Linked DNA regions of Homo sapiens: region 1 is linked to region 2. The links come from fine-mapping of genetic effects on gene expression. A gene starts in region 2. The other region holds a variant in brackets. All regions are shown on one strand. Distances are between the middles of the regions.

Region 1 (15,473 bases), 26 kb before region 2:
CTTCTTAGAGAAGAAAATCTCACCCACTCCCACCCAGGTGAAACGCCAACATTATTTTTGATCAGAAGGGATAAAGAAAGATTTGCCAGTATCAACTGTGTCATTCTAAAGCAAGACAAAGTCGAATCATGGTGGGCAGAGCTGCTTTCCAACACAACCCCATGCAGGATGCAGAACTCACTTTATTACCCGCCTGTGGCTCAGCCACTTGTTGAATTATTATGGATTTTTAGTCTCTTCCCTCACCCACTCAGCAGAGTGGTTGACTGGCCAGCACTTTCTAGTGCTCATGAGAATGCCTGAGTTTTAAATAAGCAGCACGCACCAGCACAGCAAAGCTGCTTTCTCAACAATGATTACATGCAGAATTCCAAAGCCAAACAAATTCACCTAGCGGCTCTATTCAGCTAACATTTACAGAGTGACTCCTAGTAAAAGATGCTGTGTTAGGAACGGGGTAAAAAGCAAGTGAGGCCAGCCATGATGACTCACACCTGTAATCCCAGCACTTTGGGAGGCTGAGGCAAGAGGGTCGCTTGAGCCCAGGAATTTGAGACCAGCCTGGGCAACATAGCAAGACCCCGTCTCTACAAAAAAAAAAAAGAAAGAAAGAAAAGAAAGAAAGAAGGAAAGAAAGAAAAAGAGAGAGAGAGCAAAAGAAAAAACTAGCCAAGTGCAGTGGTACATGCCTGTAGTCCTAGCTACTTGGGAGGCTCTCTTGAACCTAGGAGTTTGAGGTTGCAGTAAGTGAGCCATGATCACACCACTGTACTCCAGTCTGGGCAACAGAGTCTCAATCATGTCTCAAAAAAAAAAAAAAAAAGTGAGTGAAACGTTATTCTTCTCCTCAAATAGCTTATAGTCTAGTGGAGATAAATGCATGTGAAAAACTAAAATGTAAGGCAGAATGAGAAAAGGGCAATAAGAAAAGACATGTACACTGAAAAAAGACTAGAAGGAAATGTACCACAATATCAATGGTGGTTATCTTGTTTATTGGGTTTATGGGTGATTTTTATGATGTTCTTTAGTATTTCCTATATTCTCTGTGTTTATGTTAACCCCCAGGGCTGTGGGGAGGGGAAGGGAGATGGAAGACGTCCAGCACGTGTTTGGAAAAATGTGAGTAGGGAACAGGGTGCACTGGCACAAGGACAGAGTAAGAGATAGGACAGGAGGGCTAGAAAGCCTTGAATGTCATGCCAAATTGACTCAGTTGCTCACTGTCAGTGTTTCAATGGCCTTTTGTGATTGTTGCTGATGCATCACCCATCACACTGGATTAGACTTGTGTACATGTCTACCCCCATACATTTTTAGCTCCCTGAAGTCAGGGATCATGGCTTATTCATTCTGTAACCATACTACCCAGCACAATGACTAGCACATAACAGGAGTCAACAAAATCTTCTTGGATGTGTTGGATTCTAACAGGGTTATTCCTTATTTTGCAGGTTATAAGGAGTCATCAAGGGTTCCAGGACCTGACATATTTTAGGGAGTTCATATGGAATATATACCAGGCACTATGCTGGGAGCCTTAATTGTCTTAATTGACCCTACCTATAACCCTCATTGTCCACATTCATTTACACATGAGGTTCAGAAAGTTTAGGTAACCCACCTAAGGTCATACAGTCTGAAGACAGTGTGGGTGCTAAAGTCAAACAGAAAGAAGTAAGGAGACTAGACCCATGAGAGGCCGTGGGGACCTGGAATGGCACAGCCACTCGAGAACGAAGTGTGGAGCGAGGCTGGCATCTGGGAGGCCGTATGGAGGTAGCACTTACAGCTGAGGGGTGATGAACTCCGTGGCTCCTGCATCAGGCACATTTATCATTTCTGATGTCAGCACAGGACACACAGTACCAACAGGGACTCATCCTTGCCTTATTAGAATAGCTACCAGAAGTAGGATTTGTGCAAACAGCCCCTAACCATGCTGTGAATAGTCCCCCTCCACTCTCTCATCCACTGGCTTTTTCATGAAATTCCTAGACCCAGACACTTTCATGAAAATGTTGATACAACTGGCTCTGACTACAAATGTAAATCAATTTCCCTAGCCTAAACAAAAACAGAATTGGGAATCAGAAATGCTTTCTCATCCCATCTCAGTCACTGACTAAATAGGTACTCTTCATCTATTTCCTTACCCTCTCTGAGCCTCAGTTTCCTTATCTGTGGATTGATTGGGCTGGACAAGATGATCTTTAAGATCCTTCAGACTACATCCAAAACTGTATGTTCTCAGGAACTTTGTACTCCTCCTTAGCATTTATGACCATTGTAACTAAACAATTCCTGGTGTAACTAGTGAACATCTATTACTCCTGCTGGACTGCGAGCTCCTTGAGCCCGGGGACTATCTGTCTTGTTCCCAGTAATACTTGCAGCCTTGACTAGAGTGCTGAGCATGGAGTAGCATGCCATGTCTGCAGCACAGACACATGGCTGCTCCCTTTCTCTGGGTTGGAGCTATGTGTGGACCGCAACCAGCCTTAGGCCTTCTCACCATGATAGGGCTTCTCTAATGGTGCTTGCTCTCTGGAGGACACTGTTTCTCTCCATGGTTCAGGTGGCCAGTTAGTGTCAGATTTATCCACCCTTCCAGCCAACCCTGGAAAACTCTTTTGGATTTTCTAATAAATAAGAGGAGGTCAGTGGTGGGGGGTTTGGAAACTGTGTGTGTTTGCATTCAAAATACCCTACTGCTCAACTGGAAACGTTTTCACACGTCTCTGACTCAGTGGCACAGAGAGATGCCTAGGGATGCCCCTAGGTGTCCCTAGGGGCAGCTCAGTGCCCCAGTGAGACTTAGCAACTCCAGCCATGGTCCTCCATCCTGCTCCCTAACCTCAGCCCCACATCTCACGTTAAGAGGCCAGGCCTTTCTCTCTCAAGCCCATAGTAGGCAAGGATGCTGGGGTTCTTGTAGGCAGGAGGATGCCTGGAATGACCTCCACCAGGGCCTCTTATCCAGGGGATCCCAAAGCTGCTCCTTGGAGCCAACAGCTGCATTTTGGCCTGTGCTTACCATTCTGCAGTCTCTCTCTCAACATTAAATCAGTAGCCACTGACATTACAGTGTCAGTCATATGACGGTGTCCATAGAAGGAAGAGATCTCCTTCCTTTAAAGATGTTTATTTCCAGAAAATGAAATGAAGGCACTCCTATGCCCTTCCTTCGTTTCTAGGACAATGGGTAACGTCAAATCCCCAATAGAGCTGGCAATCAAAGACTAAGAATAATCATGCATCAGTTGTTCCCATCTGTTTCCTCCTGTCTCCTTCCAATCCAGGCCCCCAGCACCCGGCCCTAGTGCTCAGTGCATCACAGTCCCTAGATTCTTCTTGTCAGGCGGCGTTTAATTGCTTTTCTCTACCCTTAAGGCCGTATTATACTCAGGGTGAGCTCTCTGCTCCCAGAGTATTGGCCCTTTCTGAGTTCACTGTTCAAAACAACACCTGGGAAATGCACGCACAAGATCCAGAAATGAGATTGGTGTGTTCTTGCACAAGCCCTCTCACACCCTCTAGGCTCCTGCTGAGCCAGCCAGAGAAGTCAGCGAGGACTCTGCTTTCATGGGCATTGTTAATGAAAGTTTCACTTGCTTAAGTTTGCAGAAAGTAGGGCATGGATCTGCGCTTCATCATGCAGTGCCCCGCGAGACGCCTCCCCAAGATAGCTGGCTGGTTATTAACTAAGCACAGCTGGCATTGTGTGTGCTCTGAGGCTGGCTGCTCTCATTCCAGCTTGGTGGTCTAAGCATAGGAGAAAATGGTCCCTTAGGAGAAGCTTGTCAGAAGTGATGTGACTTAGTTTAGATATCTGCAGGTAGGACTGACTTCTAAGACATTGGCAGGGCCATCCAATGATGTCAGCAATATCACCCAGACCGTCTGGGGCTGCAAAACAAATAGCTTTGCTGGGATTCATAAAGCCACCATCGTAAAGTGGAACTGCTGGTGTTGGGGAGGGGTGGAGTGCACCCTGGAGGGAGTGACCCTTACATTGATGGACAACAGAACACTAAGTGTTCAGACATCCGACCTCACCCTTCACTGGTTCCCACTGCTATGGAATGGAGTGTGAACTCGCTTCCTGGGCTGCTTGGGCTCTTTTGGTCTAAGGAGGCGCAGCAAGCACTATTTTCCAAAATAGGACAGGAGAGAATGGAGAAGAAGAATGGAGAGGAATTCATCTTTCCTAGAAAAAGGAAATATTCTCTGGTTGGTTCTCCACAGAATCAGTGCCCGCTCCCCCTGGACAGTCGCTGTCCTATAATAGTGGTCCTGCCTCCCATTTTCCCTCCAGCCAGGCCTCCCTGCTTTCACTCACTTTGCTTCCATATGAGAAAGGCTCTCCCACATCTCTTCCATCTCACCAAATCTCCTCCACCCGTTAGGCAGGGTTTTAATCTATAAGGGTTGCCAATGAATTATCAAAAACCAGGTGTCTTAAAACAACAGATTTCTTCTCTCACAGTTCTGGAGGCCAGAAGTCCTAAATCAAGGTGACTGCGGCGCTGTGTCCCCTCTAAAGGCTCCTGCAGAGAATCTGCTCCTTGCTTCTTCCGGCTCTGGTACCTCCAGGTGTTCCTTGGCTTGAGGCTATATCACTCCAGCTCTGCCTCTGTCCTCATTTGGCCTTCTTCTCTCTATGTCCCTCCTCTGTGTGTCTCTTTATGAAGACACTTGCCACTGAATTCAGGGCCCACCCAGATAACCCAGGATGATCTCATCTAAAGATCCCTCACTTCATTACATCTGCAAAGACTCTTTTTTCCAAATAAGGTCATATTCACCAGTTCTGGCAGTTAGGACATGGGCCTATCTTTTTACCATTCGCCCCTCTGCAGGCACTGATTCTCAACCCTCAGAGTACATCAGATCCTCTGGGGAGATTTTTAAACACTCCAGATGCGTGGGCCTCACTCCAGAAATTTGTTTTCACATGATCCTGGATGGGAAATTAAATAAGTATTTTCTTTTCTTCAATTCCCCAGTTTCTCAAGCGCAGCCAGGATGGTGGGGCAGGGGCAAGGAGCACCACATCTCCCGGACAGTACTTCATTGAAGAAGACATTGTAAAGAATCCCAGCTTTCACTGATCACTTTCTCCTCCAGGATTTTTTTTTTTCTGACTGAGTCATGAATCAGGCTGTCATCCATTGTTTTGTAAATGTTGCACAAAGAATGTCAGAGACCTTGGAGATCATTTAACCCAGTGGTGCTCCACCCTATCCAATCAATGCCCTATTTTTGTAACAAATATTTAGAAACACCATCTTTACCACCTGAAATACAATTCCTAGAAAAGTCGGTCGACCCAAACGCATAAAGTAGCCCTAATTTTAATAAAAGGATAAAAAGGAAATGTGATTAATATATATAAATACATACTATATGTATATTTTATATATATACGTATATACACAGAGAGAGAGAGAGCGAGCACACACTTGGCATGTCATCTTGTGCAGGAGCCATGCTAATCTTCTTTGTATCATTCCAATTTTAGTATACGTGCTGCCAAAGTGAGCACAGAAATGTGATTCTTAATAAAATAATATGTCTGTCAATATGTACGTGCTCATGCATGCCTGCACTGGAACACATAATGAAGTAGTCAACACTTCCACCTACCTATAATGGTTAAGTTTAGATTTAACAGAAGACAAATAGAAGCCACTTCATATAAGAAGTACAAGGAAATAAAAGATCAGAGGGATATAGGAGGACAATAGAATAAAGAAGTGTTACAATGAGTTACCCCCCTTTCCTGGCCGTATATGATAACAGGAAGAAGGAAATAACCTTCACTGAGGTACAGATAACAAGCCAAATCAAATTACAAATGTGCAAGCAGAGGAAACAAGGAAGCACAGGATCCTGTCTCGTGAGCTCAGTCTTACGTATAAGTGTAGCGTCATGATAATTTATTACGCTGTGATATGGGGCAGGATAGTGACAAAGTGTCACAGAAAACATGTTTCCAGTCTGGAAATCCCACCCACTGTGTTGAGGCATATATTCGGTCTTTAGCAGTAAAGAAAAAAAAAAGAAAGAAAAGAAAGAAAGAAAAAAAAAAGTGGCTGGGCGTGGTGGCTCACACTTGCAATCCCAGCACTTTGGGAGGCCAATGCGGGTGGATCACAAGGTCAAGAGATTGAGACCATCCTGGCCAACATGGTGAAACCCCGTCTCTACTAAAAATACAAAAATTAGCCGGGCGTGGTGGCACACCCTGTAGTCCCAGCTACTCGGGAGGCTAAGGTGGGAGAATTCCTTGAACCCGGGAGGCAGAGGTTGCAGTGACCTGAGATCGCACCACTGCACTCCAGCCTGGCAACAGAGTGAGACTCTGTCTCAAAAAAAAAAAAAAAAAAAAGCTTTTAAAATGACATCCTTATAGTATGGGCGGTGAGAAGAAGAGGATGGATTGGGAAAAGTTGTTGGGTAAATCTTGAAGGAGAATATCAGAGTAAGAAGGAAGAACAAAAGGCAACCCCAAAGAAGTAACCATGATAGCTAATTTTTGCAAGAGATTTCTTATCATTGTACTACAAATATAAATATATGTGATAAGAATATTATTTTTAAAACAGCTTTTATAAACAAGTTTGAGGCGCCTCTGCTAATTTAAACTAGTATCTAATTCTACATCGGCTGGATGAAGTCTCAGATTTCCTGTTACAGACCTGCGCATGGGTTCCTTGCTTTGCGGTCACTGCATATTGTACTGTGCCCTTTTCAGTTCAGTGTATATTTGGAAATGCTCTGATCTAGACAGAATGCATGAAGCAGGGAGATCATCTCGTCATTTCGAGGTTTTGTCTTTATTCCATTTAGGCTTCTCTTCCTAAAACAACCATTTCCTAAATACCGGGCTTTTGGCTTAACTTCTTTGAAAGTGTGAGAGGCATTACTCTAGGGGACAGCCTGACCCCATTAGAAACACTCGCCAAACAAGGGCTGAAAAACTACCTATTGCATACTATGTTCGTTATTTGGGTGATGGGTTAATTAGAACCCCAAACCTCGGCATTATGCAATATCTCCATGTAACAGACTTGCAGGTGTACCTCCTGAATCTAAAAAAAAAATAAAATAAAATAAGGAATACTGATCAAGTGTAACCTCATTCATTTCTGTAATGAGGAAACAGGCCCAAGAGGGTAGGCCAACTGTAAATTTTGCTCTCCTTCCTGTCACTAAGTTCCTTGAGGGCAAGGAGGGTATGGGATACTTCTTTTGTATCTGCACACAGCTGCCAGCACAGAGCAGCACACATACCTGTCTGTGGCCCTAGACGTGCCTGCTGTCTGTATTCCATCAGGACTCTGGAGTCTCCTTTTCAACCTGAAAACCACTCGTTTCTAATTACTCATCCATAGGAAACACAGGCAACGGATCCCCAGAAGTCACTTGGGACTGAGTTTCAACACTTTTGTTTCACACAGTTTCAGCACTCACACCAGCTGCAGCTGAAGACCATAGCACTTCAATGAAAAGCAACTGACTCCCTCCCCAACCCCTCTGCCCGTAGGCTGCTGTGGTTAGCACTGCACTCAGAGAAAGAATAAATAAAAAGCAAAAGCCCCAGTTGTTCTAAGATAACCACAGAGATGACAGATGCTGTTGCATGCAAACTTGCGGGAGAAGAGAGATAAACAGCACATTACAAATCCAACAAAGCATGGTGACGAGAAGCCTTGGCGGGCAAGTCCCGTTGCTGAGGTGTGACTTCAGAGATCAAGTGGAATGTGCCCTCTTGGTCCCATCCTCCCCTCACCCCTGCACTCTTCCTCTTTCAGCTGGCTGGGTTTAGAATTTCTTCAGTAGGGAAGAGGATTTTGCCCCGCTGGAAGAATGCTAACTCTCAGGATGAGTGATACTTTGGGAGACCCCCAGCCCCCAGCTTACAGGATAAACAAATGGCCAGGAATGAGAAAAGCTGAGGTGGAGCAGCAAAGGGAGGGAGGGTTCCTTTGGCCCACCTTTCAACCCCGAGTGGCCTCCAGAGAGCTGCCAGTTGTGGTCATGTTCATCCTGGGCTGCGGGCAGAAGGATGGCTCAATACCTTAGCTCATAGCCACCACTTCTGGGTCCCACTTCCTTCCTTCATCAAGTAGTGTAAAATGACGAGGACCCAAGACAGCTGGAAGCCACTCGCCTTGTTGTCCATGGTTGCTCCATGGCGTATTTGTCTCTTTTGTCACATTCTGGACACAACCCAACGCATCCATGTCACCAATACCACATGTAGCTGGTGGCACTGCAGCTTTCTGTTGACCTGCCTGAACTAGCCTCCAGGCACCAGGCTTGTCACTCACACCGAGCGCAGTGCCTGGCATTCAGAAGGTGCTCAATACATGTTCTTGGATTGAAAGAGCAAAAGGGCAGGGGAGCCAATTCCACTCTATGAAATGGGAAAAGCTGTCAAGGAACAGCCGTCAC[G/A]TTAGTTATGAGACCACAGACGCATTGTCACCCACCTTTTTTGCAGTATGTAGCCATCTGGCCCATTTTCAGAGCTGCTCTTATCTTTGTCACGACTATCATCTCCACAGCATCAGTAATGACAGACTTAGAAGGTGAGAGGCTTAACTGTAAACCACTCCTTATTTAAAAAGACTTTGGGGCCGGGTAAGCTGGCTCATGCATGTAATTCCAGCACTTTGGGAGGACGAGGCAGGCAGGTCATGAGGTCAAGAGATCAAGACCATCCTGGCCAATATAGTGAAACCCCATCTGTACTAAAAATACAAAAGTTAGCTGGATGTGGTGGTGTGCACCTGTAGTCGCAGCTACTTGGGAGGCTGAGGCAGAAGAATCACCTGAACCCGGGAGGCAGAGGTTGCAGTGAGCCAAGATTGCATCACTGCATTCCAGCCTGGGTGACAGAGCGAGACTCTGTCTCAAGAAAAAACAAAAAGACTTTGGGAGCAGCATGATAGATTGGCTAAAATGTCAGGTTCTAGTGACAGAAAAACCTGGGTTCTGATCCTAGTTCTTCTGTGTGCGAGTTATGAGTCTTGGTGAAGCCACTTCACTCTGCTACTGTTTCCTTGTCTGGAAAAGTGAGCTAGTGCTACCACTGCCTTGGGGGGTCTGCTGAGAGAATCCATGTAATGGAGCAACACTTCTGACTGTCTTGTATTTCATTTTTATTGCTGGTCTCCATGCAATTACTCAGATAGTGCACAAAAGCAAGAAGAGAGCAGAGTTCTTTCCCTTCCACTTTTCAGCTCCCGAGATGAAAGCCTGGACATGGCAAGGCAGGGGCTGCAATCTCAAGCATACAGAAGATTAACAGAAATGGGCCGAGTGGGCAGGGGCCGATGAAGAAGAATCGCTTTCATATTAAGTCTGCCCTCCTCCCTCTGCTGGAAAAAGACAGCCTCCTTGGTTTTCAGTTTCCCCCTTGAAGAGACATGAGTACATGAGTGATTTCCCTTCCTCCTTAATACTCTATGAGAGAAACAGCACAATGTTGCTAGATGGCAGTCAACGCTCAGGCTGAACGCAAGAGGGTCAGCAAGAGGTGGTGGGGAAGATGCCAGAGCGGGGCAGGGAGGTCTCTTTAAAAGGACAGCTGCTACCCAACCCAACCAGTTGTCCACATACTAGAACTGAGTGTTTCCAGTTCTGTTGATTATTCAAAGATTTTTCAGAATTTTTAAATGTTACACACGTTCAGGGTCAACATGAAATGGCAGGTTTATTCCGTGCAGTGTTTCTTGTAATATTAACAGCAAATGACTAAAAACAACCTGTGTTCATCAGTAGGGGATTGCTAAATTATGGTAAATCCATACAATGGGATACTATGCCCCTGTAAAAAAAGAATGAGGAAGCTCTCCACATACTGAGAGGGAAAGATCACCAAGATAAATCGAGTGAAAAAGGCAAGGTTAAAAATAGTGTGTAGAGTCTGTTATAATTATGTAAGAAGTAGAGGGATGAGGCAGATATATATTTGTACTGACTTTTATCTGCAAAAAGAAATCCTGGAAGGTTGTATAGGAAACTAATAAAAGTGGTTACAAGGGAGGGGCAGGGCAGGACTGGCCAATGGAGGCAGGGATAAGATTTCGCCGAATACCTTTCTATAGCGCTTTAATTTTTGAACCACACAAATGTATTGCTTATTTGAAAAATAATACAAAAACACTGTATACACCAGCTACTGGGAAGAAAACACATCTACAGGCTACGAACAGCCTGCAGGCTTCTGGGTTGCACCTTCACATTAAGGGCTCCAAAACTGGAGAGGCAGAAAAGTTGGCAGCATTGGATCCAAGCTTTACTAGGTGTGGAGACAAGTAGGTTGTTCAGTATCTGGTGTCTGGAACTCTCTCTGGATTGCCTGGCAATGAGCTAGTTGGGCCCAGCAGCCTCCGCCACCTCCAGGGGGAAAGTGATGCACTCCCAGCCTCTCTGGAAGAGACTGCTCCAAAACTCAACTTCCCGGGAAACTGAGGAGCTCCAGGGTCACCAGGTGCTGGGCAGACAGAATTTCCTGCCATTCCTCGATAGTTAAGGCTGCCTGGAACCCCAGTGGTGTGTTCCCCCCATCAAGGCTCTGTCCCACTTGTCCCATACAAAGGAGAGCGATAGGTGAGTGCAGTTCCTCCTCTGGAGCACAGCATCCAATGTGTCCAGCTGGGCCCCAGCTCAGCACACCTCTCTAGTGAATGCTGAGAACAGAGGACATGCTCCCCTGCTGACACTGCTGCCAGTCACTTTCAGGCAGCACCATGGAACACCATTCATATTCACCCCGGCCCTTTGTATGTCCCTAGTCTTGTCACTGTGAATGAGCTCACTTAGTGTGGCAGCTTGAACTGTGATCTCCACATTGAAGTCCTAACCCCTAGTACCTCAGAATGTGACCTTCTTTGGAAACGGGGTTGCTGAAGATGTAATGAGTTAAGATGAGGTCATACTGGAGTAGGGCGGTTCCTAATATGGCTGGTGTCCTTATAAAAATGGGAAAATTTGGAAACACACACACACAGGGAGAATGCCATGTGATGATAAAGGCAGGGATTGGAGTGACGCAGCTGCAAGCCAAGGAAGACCACAGTCGGCCGGCAAATCGTCAGAAGCCAGGGCGAGGCAAGGAGGGGCCTCCTATACACCACAGAGGGGTCAGGCCCTGCTGATACCTTGGTTGCAGACCTCTCGCCTCTAGAACTGGGAGACCTGACATTTCTGTTAATCACCCAGTTGGTGGCACTTTGTTAAGGCAGCCCTAGGAAACTCATACACTCAGCAACCTCAGGCCAACTCGGGTGGCAAAAGTACCCGCCATTGCTCCTTCTCAGCAGGTGCCCAACAGATACTGGTGACAACACTGCTCCTATGAATGAAGATCCCAGGACCTGGCCCGGTCAAGTGTATTGTGTCGGAATGCATCAAATAGTCAACCAATAAACAATGGCTGAGTACCCGACCTTGTGAAGAATGCAAAAGACATAAAATATTCCATTACTACCCTCAAGGAGTTGACAATCTGATTGAAGATTCAAGAAAGACATGTGTAATAATGGCCAAATTAGTATTATCTTCCCCCAGCCCTCACCCACGACCAGCAGATGCCACAGAAGTCACTCTTAACTAAATTGCACTGTGCTCCCAGCTGGATTCAACCTTCTACTGCATCTCATTTCGCTGCTCCCTGCATGTGTCTGGAAGAACCGCTTTTCCAGCTCTCCAGGACATTCTTTAGGATGTCAGGCTACTAGACAATTTCTAGAAGCTGTCGCCACTGCTCCTGGCATGGAGCCCACACTTCTTGCCCACTGCGGACACCCACTCCTGGCCAGAATTGTCTGCCACCCCTGGTGAAGCCGCTCCCATCAGTTTCTTATGAGCGCTTTTGTCCCAGTCAGAGAAGCAGACCCTGTGGGATGTTGAGCCTATTCTGCAGCAATCAATGAATCTGACAAGCAAAAAACATGAGATCCAGGTGGTTTGAGAGTCCACTTTGCTAAGCTGACAGTTTTCAAGCCAGGGGCAGGCTACAGAAAATCAGAGACCCTCAGGAGAAATGCTGTTTTCTTATCCTCATTCAGAACATTTGTTTGTTTGGCCCAGCCTTCTCACAGGCGGCTGCTCCCAGTACCCCCTGAATCCAGGAACTCCGATTCTTACCATCAGCAAGACTCCTGTGCAGCCACACACCTGGCAGGAGAGGAGGCAGCACACCTGTGTTGAATTCTCCTGGCACTCCTGCTGAATCCCAGCGCTCTGGATCCGGCTCCTGCAGGGTTTTTCTTGTGCTAAGTGCCCAGTGGAGGCTCTGGCTGGGCTCATGGAGGAAGAGTGGCAAGTTGCTGCTGCCCCACCCTTGACAAACAGCCCAATGGCCCCAGGTGGCTCCGTGCCAGCCTCCTGAAGGGCAGCTGTGGTCAGGGCATGACCTGTGGGTAGAACAGAGAGAGGAAAGGGTTCCTCACTTTGACTTCAAGCAATTCATTTTAGATTATCTGGGTTGGGCTTTGAGGCAGACACTGTGGCTTGCTGAAGCAGCATCCATTTATCCTTTCCTCCTTTCTAGCAGAACTCCATTTCTGTTCACTCAGGACAGTGACCTCCTCCCCAGCTCAGAGGCCTCATCCAGCCAAAACAATGCAAGCTTCTTGCCAATGGGTAGGTTGGGGTGGACTCTACTCCGTCTCTGGTTGTTAAGACGTGAGAGGAGCCCTGCTAGGGGTGCTCGGAGAAGTGTTTTCCTGGCTCTTTTCCTCTGCTGGATGCTGTGCCATCTGATGTGTTGACTGCAACTTCTGCAGCCACTTTGTGACCATGAGGAGGAAGCCTGAGGCAGAACAGAAGGACTGAATCCGGGCCCTTGATGACATCGTTGACCACTGGATCAGACAACACCAATGTCACCCTTCCTCCAGACTTCTTATTACACATGCGATAAATATCCTTGTTTAAATCCATCGAGTTGTGGGTTTTTGCTACTCATAGCTAAGATTATCTGAGGTGATGTGCACTGAGATGTTCCTGAGACCACAAGACCACATTCTAGAATCCAATCCCACTATCCTAACCACAACATTCCCAAATTTTCAGGACACACACACACACACACACACACACACACACACACACACTTTTCTCTCCACCTTTTCTTGGTATTCAGTCCTTTTCCTAGACTGGACACATTTTGCCTTATTTTTTTTTTTTTTTGAGATGGAGTCTCGCTCTGTCGCCCAGGCTGGAGTGCAGTGGCATGATCTTGGCTCACTGCAAGCTCTGCCTCTCGGGTTCACGCCATTCTCCTGCCTCAGCCTCCTGAGTAGCTGGGACTACAGGCGCCCGCCACCACACCCGGCTAATTTTTTTTAAAAAATATTTTTAGTAGAGACGGGGTTTCACCATGTTAGCCAGGATGGTCTCTATCTCCTGACCTCGTGATCTGCCCGCCTCAGCCTCCCAAAGTGCTGGGATTACAGGTATGAGCCACCCCACCCGGCCTGTATTTTCAATAAATTCTGCAACATATGCCAATTCCATCATTTAATTAAGAAACATTTTTTACCCCCACTGATGTACCAGACACTTTGCTGGGCTCCCGGGACTCAAAACTGAAGTCAGGGACTAAACCCTGAAAATGGCATGGAAGTTCCTCAAAAAACTAAAAATAGAACTAGCATATGATCCAACAATCCCACTTCTAGGTATATGTCCGAAGGAAACACGATCAGTAGCTCAAAGTCATCTCCGCACTCCCGTGTTCACAGCAGCAGTATTCACAATCACCAAGACATGGAAACAACCTAAGTGTCCATCAACAGACGAATGGATAAAGAAACTGTGAGGTGTGTGTATGTGTGTGTGTGTGTGTGTGTGTGCATATACATAATAGAATATAATTTATCCATAAAAAGAAGAAAACCCTACCATTTGCGACAGCAGGGGTGAACCTCGAACCTTGAGGGCATTATGCTAAGTGAGGTAAGCCAGACAGAGAAAGGCAAATTTATGATGTCACTTATATGAGGAATCCAAAACAATTGAACTCAGAGAAACAGAGGGCAGAACGGTGGTTGCAAGGGGCTGTAGGTGGCGAGAGAGGGGAAATGTTGGTCCAAGGGTACAAAATTGCAGTTACAATGTGGATAAGCGGGTAAGTTCTAGAGATCTAATGTACAGCATGATGACTTAATACTGTATTGTATACTTGAAATTTGCTAAGAGGGTAGATTTTAAATGCTCCTACCACATACACAAAAATGGTAACTAGGTGGGGTGATGAATGTATTAACTAACTTTATAAAAAAAATTTTCTCTTTGAATTCTATGTTAACCAACTTGATTGGGCTATCATTTCATAATATACACATATATATCAAATCATCAGGTTGTACACCTTAAATTTATAGAATTTTATCTTTCAGTTACACCTCAATAAAGCTGGAAGAAAATGAAGCCCTGCGGAGATAGAGCAAGTGAGCCCAACTCCTGGAAAAGAGGTGAGTGCAGGGAGGCAAATCCTAGGACAGGGTGCACGCAAGCCTGTGTGGGCACAAAGAAGGGTGCGGGGAGACCTGGCGCTGGGAGAGTGTTAGCAAAATGCTCCTCAGAAAAGAAATGAATTCTTGAAGGGAGACAAGAAAACTGCAAGCAATAGAGGCAGGCAGACATTCACAACTGAGTAAGTAAATAGTAATAAAATAACAACCAACAATGGTGGCAACTAACAGTTCCTGACACAATGACCCAGGCAGTGTTTGAAAGTTTTCTGGGTACTAACCCATTTAATCCTCCTCCAAAGCCTGTAAGGTAGTTCAAGGATTAGCCCCATTTTATGGATCAGTAAACTGAGGCATGGAGAGGTTAAGTGATACAGGAAGTGGGTAGCAGAGGCAGGACTTGGACCCAGGCCGTGGAGCTCCGAGGCTCACATGCTTTATAGGCTACACTGGTGGTTCTCACAGTGGCCGTCAGGAGAGAAGCCCCCGCAGCCCCTGGAAACTTGTTACCAATTCAGATCTTGGGCCTCATCTCAGACCCACAGAGTTAGAACCTCCGCAGGTGAGGCCCAGCATGCCACGTTTTCACAGCAGGCCTTCCTTGTGATTCTGATATTTGAGAACCCTGCTTGACACTATAAGCCTGTACTGAGAAGGGATGGCATGCTCAGAGGACCATGAATGCTGCAAAGAGAAGCAAAAGCCAGAGGGCAAGACAAGTAAGCTGTGAAGAAGCCCATCAGGAGGGTGGGCTTTACTGTATGGGCATGAGGGAGAAAGGTATGGGGTGAGGCAGGGAGGTGGCTTGATTGGGCTTTGTTCTCTGTGACAAGATCTCTGGCATGAGTGCTAGTAATAGACTAGATGGGGAAGAAGATGGAAGGAGGGGGGCCAGGTAAGAGGCTGATGCTATGACCCCAACAAGTACAGCAGGGGCTGCACTAAGGCGGTGGCAGTGCAGAGAGAGGAGGGATAGGG
Region 2 (15,473 bases):
CCCCTCAAAGGGAGTATGCATGCCTACTACAGGGACCACCCCTCTCTTCTTAGACCAGACCCCCTGCAGGACCCTTTGCTGGCACAGCAGGGACTTAGCATGCATGGAAGCTAATTAGGTGAGAGACTCTGCTTCTGCCTCCTGGAGAATTTCAATCCAAGACAAGCACAACAAGTTGTGAAGGACCAACAAGGGGAGGAGTACATCTCAACAAGTTGGTTGAGAAGGACCAACAAGGGGAGGAGTACACCCTTAGCATGGAACTCAACCACAAGCTCTCAAAACAGGTAATGTCACCATGACCCATGGGATCACATGTGCGTGGACCACGTGCTTCCTCACATCCCTTAACTCACCTGACATGGATCAACAGGTAACTCCTGTATTCTCACTTGAATGAAGAGAAGAGAAACTCAGGTTTAGAGGCTAATCCCAAAGACATATGACTGGTTAGAGTAGAACCCAGACTCTGCACTAAGCATTCAGAGGCGGCAGGCTGTGGAACGCTTGAGGACTTGGCCCTAGAGCCAGACTGCCTGGGTTCAAATCCCAGCTCGGCCTCTTATCAGCTGTGTGACCCTGGAAAAGTTACTCAGCCTCTTGAAACAGATGAGGAAGATGGCTTCCTCATCTGTAAAATGGGGAGGATGATCATAACAGTGCCTATTTCATAAAACGGTTACAAAGATGAGTTCATTTATGCCAAACTCTCAGCCATGCCCAGTGTGTTTCTGTGCATCAACCTTGAGGTGCAGTGGAAAGAGAGTCCCTGGAGTTCCGTCTTTGGTCAAGGTGGGGCTGCAGGAAGCTGGCCTCCCTCCCGCATCAGCACCAATCCAACCCTCTATCCCAGTGGGTGAAGGTATGTGGTTATGTGCAGCGGACAATGTGGCAAAGCTGCATCCATTTACCAAGAGAACTCTGATGGACTACAAATCCTGGACCTCAATGCTGAGCAATCTCTAAAGTAAACAAAGTGAAAATAAACCAATCACCCAGGTAATAGAAGATTTTCCTCTTGTCTGCACTGGTAATTGGGTCATGGTAGCCAACCTCCCACGTCCCCTGGTGCTGCTGTGAGTTTAAAAGAGAGTAAAGGAAGCTGTCTGGCCAGAAACACGAGTGCAGGTTCCGGGAGGAGGGCAGCCACACCCGCTGGTTCCAGCTTGTCCTGGTGCACCTGTAGCACGTGTGCTACGTCTCACCCTTCTCACCTTTCCTCTAACTAAGCCCAGAAGGGCACAGAGCTCCACAGGCTCAGGGGTGCACCCAGAAGGGCACAGAGTTCCACAGGCTCAGGGGTACACCCAGAAGGGCACAGAGCTCCACAGGCTCAGGGGTGCACCCAGAAGGGCACAGAGTTCCACAGGCTCAGGGGTACACCCAGAAGGGCACAGAGTTCCACAGGCTCAGGGGTGCACCCAGAAGGGCACAGAGTTCCACAGGCTCAGGGGTACACTACGAGCACAGGACTGGGTGTTAAGCCTATCCAACCTCACTGCTGGGACTTGCTTGGGTAAAACACGGTTTCCACTTTCCCACAAGTTCTCAGGCCCAGCCTCACATTTTTCCACCCCCAGGCAGGGCAGCTCTATTGTGTGAATAAGGGATCTTCAGCACAGATGGGGTGGGGACAGAGGCCCTTGGAATCTGAACCACAGGGGAAGCTTGCCTGCTCCTACCTCCATGCATCTTCTAGAAACACCTGGAGCATCACCCAGAGTCAGACTCCACCCACCATAGAGCCTGCTGCCCCATAAATGCCTCCCTTGGCCAGCCCCATCCAGGATGTGTCAACAAACAGACAAGGGAAGAAAGTGTCCCGCTGGCATTCCGAGAAAGCCAGGGCTGGGAGCCAAAACACACCGACAAGGGGGATGCTCTGTCTCCTGAAGAATCTGTCACAAAAGAAAATTCTATAGCCCTCAAGCTGGAAGAGGCCCTGGAGATAACTTTGTCATCACAGGGTGGCACCCTCTAGTTGCCCCAGGCAGATGAGGTCCTAGAGGAACCCGTCCCTAATATTGAACTTCAAGAGGTCCTTCCTGTATCTAACTCAGCCTTCAGAGAAAGGGCAGAGCAGTTACAAGGCAAGGATGACTGAGAACTCCAACACCTGAGGCCAAGACTCAGCACTGTGTACAAGGTGTGGAGCCTGTAGAGGACAAACCTGACTGAGGGTTGTCCTCCCCCTCACCTCAGCCTGACTGCAAATTTGTTTATGTCATCCGGATGACGTCATGCTAACTTGACCAGTTGGAGCAGCTGTGAGGGAAAACAGACCCCAAAGGTCCCTCTCCTGAGTCCTGTGAGGGGAAGGGGGTGTCTTTGTGTGGATGCTGTTGGTGAGTAGAGAGCCAATGGAGCATAACGCTTACAGTGCAGGCTCTGAAATAGCCAAGCTGCCTGAGTTCAAATCCTGCCTCTACCGTGTATCGGCTGTGTGACCATAGACATGATACTGTGCCTCTCTCTTCCTCAGTTAACTTTTCTATAAAATGGGCATGATGGCAGTGCCTAGCCAATTGGGTTGTAGTGAGGCTTCCATAAGGGAATACATGGACAGCCCTTGGGCCATGCCTGGCACTTTCTTTGCATTGCTCTTGTGAAGGTGACCAGTTTGCCTGGAACATCCTGGCTATGCTTGTGGTCCCAGCATTGCTATGAATATTCCCCCTTTCACTCCCGGCAGTGCCCGAGGTTGGATGATGTATTATAAGAGTGACTCCCTTTGGCTTCTTCATGTCCACCTGGTTATCTCCCTGCTTCATGCTGCCTCTGAGTACTGGGGAGCCAGGTTCCCAAAATATAGGTCCCCAAAGTAGGTTCTGCCCATGCCACTGAGCTGTCTGCTCCACAAACTCAGCTCTTCCTCTTTTCCTTCTTCTCTGCACTTTGTCTCTTCTCCTTCCTTGATCCTTACAGCCATCCTCTCCTTTCCTGCTTCCCTGTCCGTGCCTTAGGATTCTGCTGGTGCACACAGGTACCGTCTGGCTTTATTGGGACTTCCCCCTGACCCTGTACTTGGACGGAACCCTTTATGGCTCTAACTAAACTGTGCCTTATCAAATTTCTCTCAGAGGAAAGGAAGCGATTTGAAAAGGCAAAGAAATGACCAATAGATGGATGAGTGGAACAATGTGCTGGTTTTTGTTGTTGTTGTTGTTGCTGTTTCTTTGTGTGTGTGTGTGTGTGTGTGTGTGTGTGTGTGTGTGTGTGTGTGTTGTGTTGGTAGGAACAAAAAGTGTACCAGTTTGAAATGGTCCATTGAATGCTAGACCTGTCTATAGAACTGTCCCCAGGGCTATTTTTTTTATTTTTTATTTTTATTTTTTGAGACGGAGTATCGCTCTTGTCACTCAGGCTGGAGTGCAATGGCGCAATCTCAGCTCACTGCAAACACCGCCTCCCGGGTTCAACCAATTCTCCTGCTTGGCCTCCTGAATAGCTGGGATTACAGGTGCCTGCCACCAAGCCCAGCTAATTTCTGTATTTTTAGTAGAAATGAGGTTTTGCCACGTTGGCCAGGCTGGTCTCGAACTTCTGACCTCAGGTGATCCACCCGCCTCAGCTTCCAAAGTGCTGGGATTACAGGTGTGAGCCACCAAGCCTGGCCCCCAGGGCTATTTTACAGGAAACCCTGGAGGCTCCTCTGCAAGACAGCGGCCTCCATGTGTGTCAGTGCAGAAAGCAAAACCTCTGGAGCCCAAGGGCCTGGACCCATTTCTGCCACTCACTAACAGCTGACAAAGGACCATGATTTCGCAAAGACTCAGTTTCTCCATCCGTAAAATAGGGCAGACTTGTCTCTAGAACACCGTGATTCTATGACATTGTAAGAGGCCGTGGACCTGCTCTTAAGATCCTGAATTCTGCAATATTCTGCAATATTTGGCAATTACATCTTTTAGCTCTTCTCTAGGGGAAACATACGAGGGAAACAGGGCCTTGGAAAATATAAAATCTGAACTAATTCTCACCTAAGGTATCATGGCAAGTGCCTGAGTCCTCTGTGCATTGCAACAAAATAGACACTATTTTGTGTGGAAGAAAAGCAAGAGAGAGATGTGAACTCAGTGGGTGATTAGCCTGTCCCTGAGGAATCCCTCACTAGCTCTCCCCTAGCTTCTCTCAGCTGCATTGCCAGTACCCAGGCAGCCTGCAGATTCAACCCTCCCTCCCCACAACAGGTTCAGCAAACCATTGCAACAAGGAGCCCCAAGGCAGAATGGATGGCTACTGCGGCCACTGCCCCAGTGCTGGGGCCTGCCTTCTGCAGGCTCACCACAGCGTGACGCATCTCCAATCACCCCCCACACCTGGGGTTCCATCTCTGTCAGTGGCATCACCAGCCACTCTAACTCTGGAATCCAAATCGCCATCATCTTGGTCTCTTCTGCTCTGGTCCCTGACATTTATTCAGTTACCAGATTGCATCTACTCCATTGTTCTCTGGGTTAAAATCCCCATCCCACCACTTATTTTCTGTATGACCTTGGATAAACCACCTAACCTCTCTCTCAGTTTCCTCCTCTACAATATGGAACAATCATAGCAATCTCCTCATGAGGTTGTCAGGAGGATTAAATGAGATTAAACATGAAAATCTCCTACCACAGGCCCTGGCACATGGCAGATGACTTTTCCCCTACCCCCAAGCCTTTTAGCCCCTTCCTGTCCATTCCCACCAGCCCTGTTCAACCCCTCATGGTGACTGCAATGGGCTTCTTCCCAGGTTCTCTTCCCACAGCTTCCTCCACTGCAGTACATCCCATACCCAGGTGCAGATGACATGTTCTTCTGAACCCAGCTCCAGGAACAACACTTCCCTTCTTAGAAACCATCAAAATATCCCTAGGCTTAATAATGAAGTTTCTAGACTCGTAACACTCCAAGCCTCTGCCATCTCTCCCAGGCAGCACTCCTCACCGGATTGTCCACTACATTACTCCTTGCTCCTCAGGTACAACCCACCTTCACGGCTTTGCTCAGCCGTCCTTCCCCAAGATGCCCAGACCCAGCCTCCTATTCAAGGCCCGGCCTCAGTGCCACATCCAGGACGCCCTCTGCGAGTCACTCCTTCCAGAAGTAACCTCCCTCCTCCAAACTCCCTCTACACACTTTATAGTATAGAACCGAGAGGTGACAGGACCTCGGAAGCCGTACCTGAAGCCTCTCACTTATAGAACCGAGAGGTGACAGGACCTCGGAAGCCATACCTGAAGCCTCTCACTTATCACTTAAAAACTGCGCATGAAGTAGCTCTTATGGGCAAATACTAAACCATGAGGTTGTACATATTCATTTCACCTGAAAAGGGGCATGAACTCTGGACCCTTCAACAAAAATGCTGATTCCACGTGGAGCAAACTGCTCTGATTTCATATCCCTATGCCCACATCCTTGATAAAAAGACTCTTCGGTACATGCTGCTTTCTTCCAGAGACAAGGAACCCATCACCTCATGAGTTAGGTTCTTCCTCCTGACCCTCTGACCACCCTGGGGACTCCCACGGATTGGCTCTTTCTGTCCTCTTGAGTCACACAGAACGAATTCCTTTGAGACTCCTGGTGTCCTCCACAGAGCCAAACAGGGCAGGTTCCTAAGCACACTGTGTAAACAGATAAATGAACTCAGAGGGCTTTCCCACGTGGCAGGGTACATTCGCTGCATCCCGTGCATGCATGGGTGCACAGACACACACTCGCACACACACGGACACACACACACACACACGGACACACACACACAGACACACACACACACGGACACACACACACACGGACAGAGTCAGCACAACGCCTCTGAGCCACACAGCCAGGCCAGCACACGCGGGGGCCAGGGCGGAAGCCAAGCCCCAGCAGCCGCCCACTTCCTGACCTCCTTCCTTTGCTCTGGGAGGTTCTCTCTCTGTGTCTTTCTGACTGTCTGTCTCGGTTCTTTGTTTCTCGGCATGGCAACAGTTGTGGATGCTGCCTGCGTGGCCAGGGCTCCTAGTAGCACTGACCTGCAAGGTAGGAGTTTTGGTTCTTAGACTTGAGACCTTGGGCAAGTCACTTTACCATTCTGAGCCTCAGTTTCCTCATCTGTGAAATGAAGAGGCTGGATGAGGCTGGAGGGTTCCTAAGGTCCTTTCCTGACCAAAACCCTAGTGCTTCTCGGCTCTCCTCCAGTCCCGTTACCGAGTGACAGGGAGGGGAGCAAGGGCCAGGCCAGGCCTGGGGGTGGCAGGGGAGCCAGCTGTTCCCCCCCAAGGGCACACAGCCTCCATCCAGGCCCTCTGCGAGTTCCATGTGCGGCAGACACGCGCTCACACTTCGCAGCCGGAGGAGCAGGCAGGAAGCGCCGCCCCCCGGCCGCCCCGGCCGCCCACCCTCAACCTTCCTCCACGTTACCTTGGGCGTGTAGGCTTCCCGTGGACCTGCCCGCGCCGCCCGCTCGGCTCTCAGCTGTCAAGCAGCCGCCTGCTCCGCCCGACTCTTTCCGCTCCGAGCCGCGCGGGCTGGACCAGCCCCTCAGCGGAGCTGAACGGGAAGCGGCGCCCCCTGGACGCCCTCCGGGACGTGCGCGCGCCAAGCGGTGGGGTCCGGGCCTGCAGGCGCGACCTGAGGCCGCCAGGGAGGCTGGGTGGCGAGGGCGGGGCGGCTGCCGACTTAGCCGGCCTGACTGGTCGGGCTTCCGGGGTCCCGCTGCTCCCTAGGCCCCTTGCCCCGATTCAGGCTCCCAAGGTGGGGCATCAGTCCGGCCCTCGCTGGCTCACTGGAGAGGTGGTGTCTGGGAGTGCACCCCCGAAAACCCGGCAGCAGCCCGGCGTCACTCCGGCTGTTACCTCTGGGAGCAGAAACTAAAGGGGATCCTTATTCTTTATACTTTTCTGACTCTTCTATATATTCTACTGTGGGCATGAATCGTTAAAAACAAAACAAAACACCAAAAACCCAATACGTATTTGTTAATAAAGCACTGAGTAAATCTTCAAAGGCCTCCCGAGGTGCTCCGGCTGCAGGATAACCCCTCAGCTTAGCGCACAAGGCAAGGCCCACCCTGCCCTCTCCGGCCACAACCTAATTTTCCAGCCTCACCCTCTCTCCCTCACACACACACAACACTTTCGCTCTGGACACACTAGCTGTTGCCAAACACCAGCTGTTCTTCATGGCTGCTGGGAGTTCTTCTTTTTGCCTGGAACACCCTCCCCTTTCATCTCTGCCTGTTGAAATCCTACTCATCCATCCAGGCCCCTCTGAAATGTCACCTTTTTGGAGAACCCTTCCCCAGACACTGCCCCTGCAGAGTGCCCCAGTTCTTTCCTGGCAAGCCCATCTTTCTGGTACTGGTTTATGTAGTAGCATCCCCCTCTCACACGCGCTAAGTCCTATTCCAAGGTGGAGAGAAACAAATTAGCACTTACTGAGCAGCTGTTATAAATTACTCTGTGGAGTCCTTTCTTCTCCTTGCAGCCCAGCCAGCCACTAGCCCACAACCTCCCTCCACCCTGCCAGAGTTTCAGAAGGCTGTCAGGGGCTCTGAGGCCTGCCCTCTGGTGTGTCCCTACTGCGTGCCTTGGCTTTTCTGGCTCTGTCCTGGGTATGCTTCCCTGTGTCAACTCCCAAGGTCTGCAAGCTGGTGGCTTGACCTTCTCTCAGCCTTATGTGAGGAAAGAAGGACATTTCATTATCAGAATCTGAGAAGTGGAAGGGGCCTCAGAGATTATCCAGTGTAAAGCCTGCCCACCCATTTTACAGAGCAGAAAACTGTGACCAGAGAGATAAGGTCAGAGGCATCGGAGGTACCTACCATTGTTATTGTTGTTTTTAATAGTGTTAATACTTGCACGTTTAGATCGCCTTTCACTTCTAAATCAATGCGTTGTCATTCATTTGCCCCTTACAGTCTCAGAGGTATTACAGTGGTTAGTGCACAGACTCTGGAGGCCAAAGCCCTGGGTTTGAATCTCAGTGCTCCAACTTGCCAGCTACGTCCTTGGCAAGTTACTGGAACTTTCTCCATCAGTACAATGTGGATAGTAACAGCTCCTGCATCATGGGGTGTTCTATGAATCGAAATAAATGTGTATCTTTAAAGGGCTTAGAATAGTAGTAGGTTCATTAAAAATGCCAAATGTATTTGCTCTTATCAAATTTTTGTTATTGTTAATTGTATCACTTCACAGTTGGAATAACAGAGGCTCAGAAAGGCTGAGACTCATCCAAAAAATTGCTGCTTTGAGGATGGTTTCTCACCAAACTCCATGCAGTCATCTTTGTCTCTGATGCCATTCTGCTTCCTGTTCCCTTGTGTCTGAGTCTAACCACCTATTTAATAGGGAAGAAAAGCAACTGTCCTTTAGCCCACCTCAGAACACCTAGACATTTCATGTTGCAAACATTAACCACATCTTCTGGCTTCTATGGGGATGTCTCTAATTTGCTGGCGTTTTCTTTAACAGAACACCACGCCTCATGGTGCCCTTCAGAATCACAGAGCCATCACATTAACTGCTGCAAGTTCAGCTTGTACATTCGTGCCTCTTTTACTCTTGGCCCGTGGCAGAAAAGCGACAGGGAAAAGATGGTTCTTCCAATGTATGGATGTAGGAAACTGAGGCACAGTTGATACTCACTGATTGGCCCCAGGCTATGGAGCTAGCCTGGACCATGGGAAGGATGAGGATCTCCACCTCCTCTTTCCCCATGATTACATGATTCAGTGTTGCAGGAGAAACCCAAACTCGTTTATTCAATGAGGATTTATTGAGCTCTCTCTAGGTGACGAATAAGACCGAGGCAAGGCTGGCTTCCTGGGCATATGACCTATGAAGTCACATAGGCCAGAGGTCCCCAACCTTTTTGGAACCAGGAACCTGTTTCGTGGAAGACAATTTTTCCATGGACCAGGGGTGGGAGTGGGGGGTGGGAATGGTTTCAGGATAAAACTGTTCCACCTCAGATCATCAGGCATTAGTTAGATTCTCATAAGGAGTGTGCAAACTAGATCCCTCACATGCACAGTTCTCAATAGGGTTCACGGACCAGTACCCCATTACCGGTTTGTGGCCTGGGGTTGGGGACCCCTGACATAGGCCACTCACTTAGAAGGGCTTCATACAGAGTTTAATGCTGTCCTGCCACCTTCTTGAAATCTTAACAATTTTTGAACAAGGGGCCATATAAGTTGTATTTTACACTGGACCATTCAAGTTGTACAGCTGGTCTGGACCTAGGCTCTTCCCTAGGAGCTCTGTTTCACAGGGAATCAGCCAGGGAGTTGACAACTGCAGTTCAGTACGATGGGGGTTGTGACAGAAGCAGGGTAGCCGTGAAAGAAGAACAGGACCTTGGCCAGTATTCAGCTCACTTGGGTCATCCTCCCCAGCTGTGCAACCTGCCCAGCTGCCAATGACTTACCACTGTGCTCCTTGGTGGGAGGATGGCCTTGGTTTAGCACCAGGGCCTGTAGCCCCAGACAGCAGCTGCAAACCCTGCCACCCTAAGAGGCCACTGCTAGGTCATGTCAACACCAGGAAATGTGTGTCATTGGAGCCCTAAGCTGTTCTCATGTCCTCCAACCCAGGACTCATGTCCCTGATCTCATGTCCCCGATCACCAGACTGCCAGTGGACTCTACTTTCTGCTGCCTGCCCAGACCCAGTCAACTTCCAGAAAAGGGCACATAAAGTGATCCACACTGAAAAGCAATTGGCAGACAAAACCTAATGGGCTATTCATCCAAAGGAAACTTGGGTTTTATTAGGGGTATCTGGTGTCCTCCTGGCCTGCATTCTGACATATAATAAGCATCTAAGTCATGACAATTGAGTGAACATACAAAAGGTAAATACATATGGCAAAGCCTAGAATTGGAATTGGCAGTTTGAAGGCCATTGGCCCAAGAACAGGGTATTTTCGGTTGTGTTCTCTTTTCTTTCTTTTTTTTGGATGAGTGCTGGAAGCCCCAACACAATTGTTTGGGAATAAATGGAAGTGAGGAATGGAGAAGTAAGGAGGTACCACTCTCAAGGAGGCTGTCAGTAGAGGGGACAAAGAGTGTGAGAGAGGAACAGAAGAACCAAGCAGGAGACTGGAAGAGGTTTGTAGACTGAGGTTAAGAATCTGATGAAGAGAGAAAGGATGAAGAGTGAGGAGGGGTCAATGGCCCTGGTATAAGAAGAGGCAGGAAGGACTGGCGAGGACAAGGGCTTAGGAGGAGCCCAGAAGTCTCAGAAGCAGGGGGAGGAGGTAAAGATGAGTGAGGATGGGAGCAAGGTGGTGGGAGGAAAGTGGATGCAGAGCTCCCAGATCATAGTCCCTGTTTCATCTATGAACCAAGAAAATAGGTAATGGCTGGAGGGTCTGGGCTGATTGGTGGGGTAAGTAACATTTAGATGCTTGTGCTGTGAGTTGCTGCCTCCTCTGGGGTGGGGCAGGGAAGAGCCAGTGTCAGGGGTCGGGGGAGTAGAAAATTGGCTTGAAGGGCACAGGGACACTTCCAATGAGGCGTGCTACCCTCTTCCAGAGTCACCTTGATGCTCTATGGCATCCTTCCTCCTGTCATCTGTAACTTCTTTGTTTTTTCTTGTTCACTTGCTGCTTTCAACTCTAACTTAAGCCCAGTTCCTATTATTGGTCCCCTTAGAGGAACAATGAAAACATTCACTGTTCTAATACAGGAATCCCTCTATTGTTCCTTCTTCCTTATTGTGAATGGCAACAATTACAGAGTTTCCAACAGGTGGAGGCCAAAAACCAAACAGATTTTTCAATGTTGACTTTCTCAGGCTGCATACAGAAGGGCAGCATCTGCCCCACCTCCCAGAGCTTCGCCAGCAAAGGCCAAATCAAACAGCGGCCCAGAGCAGAGGGCTGGCCAGCTCTACAGAGCCAGCAAACACCAGAGGGAAATCACCCTGGATCCATATCTTCTAACCTTTGCCTCTGTGAGCATGTTTGGGAAGGAGACATCTATGAGATTGCAGGAGCCAATTCAGGCTACATGCTTATAGCTGCAATTGAAAAATTAGGCTAGAATGCAGGGCCTCCCTGAAGATATTTCTGAAAATCATGTACTTCCTTTAAGGGATTTACAAATCTGGAGTCCTTCCAAAACAGGACAAGTAAGACATGAGCAGTGACTTTCTACTCTCCATCCAGCAGCCAACAATAGACTTCGTCATTCAGATGGAGCTGCAGAGGTACAGACCTGAGAGAGCTGGAAGTCATAGAGCCAATCCCATGTATTACTGACGAGGTAACTATGGCTCAGGGTGACTTGACCTGTAAGCCACAAGCTTGTGGGTGACCACTCCAGGCCCTGAATGGAGGATTTCACTCCATCCCCCTGCCCCACAAGTGGCCTCTGAGAGACAGAGTACCTGATGCCACCTTATGTGGGATATTGTTTTTGCTGTCACGAATTTCTGAATCCCCTCTTTGTGGAATAGAGAAATCAAAGCCACCATACGTTCAAGGGTATCCACTAAAGAAGCCACATGGTTACTTCAGCTAAAAATAAATTAAAGACCTAACAATGAATTATCATTTATCTAATCATCTGGGAATGATGAAATTAATGTTTCGTATCTACTATTTTACAGTTATAAATTGCTTAGAAAGTATAGATATTTTTCCCTCATAATTCTGCTTTCCCATGAGTGCACATGCATACACACAAGACCCAACCACAGTATCTTGACCGTGAATATAATAAATAAGGAAATAACAAATGTAGTAAGGTGAAGGAGGGGGTTCTGTCAGCCCAAGAATGTTCTAGGCCTAGTGTTTGGTGGAGCCAACCAGCTCCTACAAGCCAGCGAAAACAAAGAAAAGTGCCTGGCCATTTCATTACAGAGTGCTTCCCAATAATCTAATTCCTCCACCATCAAAATTTGGTCAGGGAACATCACCATTTTTAGAGAGATGCTTTGTTTTGATAAAACAACCCTTCTGTATTAGTCTCTTCTCATGCTGCTGATCAAGACTTACCTGAGACTGGGTAATTTATAAACGAAAAGAGGTTTAGTGGACTCACAGTTCCATGTGGCTGGGGAGGCCTCACAATCATGGTGGAGGGCAAAAGGCACGTCTTATATGGTGGCAGACAAGAGAGAGCTTGGGCAGGGAAACTCCCCTTTATCAAACCATCAAATCTCGTGAGACTTATTCACTATCACAAGAACAGCACAGGAAAGACCCACCCCTATGATTCAATTACCTCCCACCAGGTCCCTCCCATGACAAATGGGAATTGTGGGAGCTACAATTCAAGAGGAGATTTGAGTGGGGACACAGCCAAACTATATCACCTTCTAAGCTTATGTCTCACTATTCACCCACAAATAGGCTGTAAAGAGCCCAGCATTTGCTTTCTAGCAATGGTGTCATACCAGCTTTGCTTTCCCTGCCTGCAGGGCCCTCCATGCATCTCTGTTTAAAGTCTAAAGCCAGATCCAGCTTTCATGCTGCCTACTGCAGAAAGACACCTCTGGTGTTTCTCAACCAGAGGAGCCTCCCCACCTCTCAATTCCGGACCACTTCTCTTAAAAACATGACCAATGATGCCAAAAGTCTAATTTATGTGTAGAGTTGGTGTTGCAGAGTAGAAGGGGATTGAGAGGTTGAGACTAAATAACTACTCAGCTTTGAACATGTCAGGAAGTTTATCTGTTCTTCGGCTTCCTAATCTGTAAAATGTAGTTAGGGACAGGATCTACCTGATGAGGTTGTTGTGAGACGTAAATGAAATAATTCACATAAAAAGCAACTAGTACAGTGCCTGGTACATAGTCAAGGCTTACAGTGTCAGGAAAGGAAAAAGGAAGGGAGGGAGGGAGGGAGGAAGGAGAGGAAGAGGGAAAAGCAAAGCAAAGAGAATGACACCAGCCTAGGCAACACAGTGACACCCCATCTCTACAAAAAATTATAAATTAAAAAAAAATTAGCCAGGCATGGTGGCTGATATGGTTTGGATTTGTGTCCCCACCCAAATCTCATGTCGAATTGTAATCCCTAATGTTGGAGGAGGAGCCTGGTGGGAGGTGACTGGATCATGGGGAAGGATTTTCCCCCTTGCTATTCTCATGATAGTGAGTGAGTTCTCACAAGATCTGGTTGTTTAAAAGTTGATATGGTTTGGCTGTGTGCCCACTCAAATCTCAACTTGAACTGTATCTCCCAGAATTCCCACGTGTTATGGGAGGGACCCAGGGGGAGGTAGTTGAATCATGGGGGCCAGTGTTTCTTGTGCTATTATCATGATAGTAAGTCTCACAAGATCTGATGGGTTTATCAGGAGTTTCTGCTTTTGCTTCTCTCTCATTCTCTCCTGCCACACTATGTAAGAAGTGCCTTTCCCCCCCCACCATGATTCTGAGGCCTCCCTAGCCATGTGGAACTGTAAGTCCAATTAAACCTCTTTCTTTCCCCAGTCTCGGGTATGTCTTATCAGCAGCATGAAAAGGGACTAATGAAACGTGTATAGCACTTCCCTTTTTGCTCTCTTCCTCAAGCTCCAGCCATGTAGGATGTGCCTGTTCCACCTTCACCTTCTGCCATGATTGTAAATTTCCTGAGGTCTCCCCAGACATGCTTCCTGGAACCATGAGCCAACTAAATCTCTTTTCTTTATAAATTACCCAGTCTCAGGTAGTTCTTTATAACCATGTGAGAATGGACTAATACAGTGGCACACACCTGTAGTGAGCTATGATAACGCCACTGCACTCCAACCTAGGCAACAGAGCAAGACCCTGTCTCTGAAAAGAAAGAAAGAAAAGAAAAAGAGAGAGAGAGAAAGAAAGAAAGAAAGAGAGAGAGAGAGATAGAAAGGAGGGAGGGAGGGAGGGGGAGGGGAGGGGAGGGAAAAGAAAAGAAAAGAAGCAAGCAAGAAGAGAAGGAAGAAGGAAGGAAGGAGGGAAAAAATATCCTCCTCTCTCTACTGAAGTCAAAAGCACCATTGCCTCTTCTTAGATGAAATACATATATGACCTCCTTGGAGGCACAATTTTATGTAACAATGACACCAAAGATCATGGAAAGGGTGAGATCAATTAATTTTTTAGATCTCCTATGTAAAGACATTGGCTGAATTCTGAATTCCATTAGAAACTGAATATTTTCAGGATGGAAGGAAATGCAGCAAGTCACCCTGTCCAACGCCCATTGATTTTCAGCTAAGGGAACTGAGATCTGCAAAGGGTAAGAGCCCACTGGCTGCAGCTGAGTCCAGATTGGAAAGCTTCCAGCCCAGACCTCCTCCCCTCCTGCACATCCCCTCTCCCAGCTGGGGAGAGACACCATAAAAACCTGATGTCCAGAGAAGAACTTCTGGCATAAGAGTGTGAAGAGGTCGATAATCTATTTCCTCAAAAAGCAACTATAGTCCCCACTCAAAACTGTCAAAAACAACCATTTCATTTCCCAAAAATGACTGGAGGCGTGCAACAAACTGAGAAGTGCTTATATTCGTGAAAACTACTAAACTTACAGCAACATCAGCGTGAATCTGTGGTGATTTGTATGAGTCCTGCACCCCTGCCCCGCCACCAGAGTGCTGTTGTTTGATAGTTCAATGAGGGCAAGCCAGATCTTACAAACTAGCATTTTTTTGTCACTGCCAGAGGGGGTTCCCTTGACTTGAAGCAGTATTATTTAAGCGATGATCTCAGAGGCAAGTAATCAGAAAGGACCAGAAGCTCTTCTGGCCTGAAACTGCAGAGCAAGCAATGGGCTAGTGACTAGCTGGGTACTTAACAGGGAGTTCCAGGAGGTGAAGCAGATATGAGGGGATTAGTAAACTCTCCCCATATTATGAGTTAAACAGAGGTCGTATGCATATGCTGCAGAAACGGGAACATCCTAAGCCACCCACACATTCCTGGCCAGTGGAGTCTTCCCCATGTACAGTGGAGATGCAAGGGCTCAGGGGAAAAGAGAAGCCTCGGCAGACTTGGGGGGAAAATGCCTGAAATTTTGATGCACTCTCCAGCTGACTCACAAATCTGCCAGCAGAAAGTAGAAATCTCACTGGCTCGAGATATTTGAGCATAACCTCTGACCAATCTTTGGCTGAACGCTAATCTAGGCAGACACATGGGCAACTCTAGGAAGCCAGGCTTAAGAATAAGAAACAAGGCCAGCTGGCCGGGCACGGTGGCTCATGCCTGTAATCCCAGCACTTTGGGAGGCCGAGGTGAGCGGATCACGAGGTCAGGAGTTCGAGACCAGCCTGACCAACATGGTGAAACCCCGTCTCTACTAAAAATACAAAAATTAACCAGGCGTGGTGGCGCGCACTTGTAATCCCAGTTACTCAGGAGGTTGAGGCAGGAGAACTGCTTGAACCCAGGAGGTGAAGGTTGCAGTGAACCAAAATTATGCCACAGCACTCCAGCCTGGGCGATAAAGTGAGACTCGGTCTCAAAAAAAAAAAAAAAGAAACAAGGCCAGGAGTGGTGGCTCACGCCTGTAATCCCAGC

The links.
Region 1: its variant is fine-mapped to the expression of CRACR2A in whole blood (INTERVAL, PIP above 0.99).

The regions. Positions count from the first base shown.
Region 1 is chr12:3,720,780-3,736,252 of GRCh38, forward strand. CRACR2A (calcium release activated channel regulator 2A) reads right to left here. Exons shown (of 20, transcript NM_001144958.2): 2 at 12,163-12,431. It also overlaps the pseudogene RNU6-174P. Among named protein-coding and RNA genes, the nearest start is that of CRACR2A, 25 kb to the right of the region's middle. RefSeq lists a silencer at 8,058-8,157 and an enhancer at 12,457-13,085. The variant G/A (reference allele first, on the strand shown) is at 8,464.
Region 2 is chr12:3,746,619-3,762,091 of GRCh38, forward strand. CRACR2A (calcium release activated channel regulator 2A) reads right to left here and starts at 6,491. Exons shown (of 20, transcript NM_001144958.2): 1 at 6,397-6,491. LOC107984495 (a long non-coding RNA gene) reads left to right here and starts at 9,945. Exons shown (of 2, transcript XR_001748964.2): 1 at 9,945-10,090; 2 at 11,078-11,547. RefSeq lists a silencer at 6,226-6,725.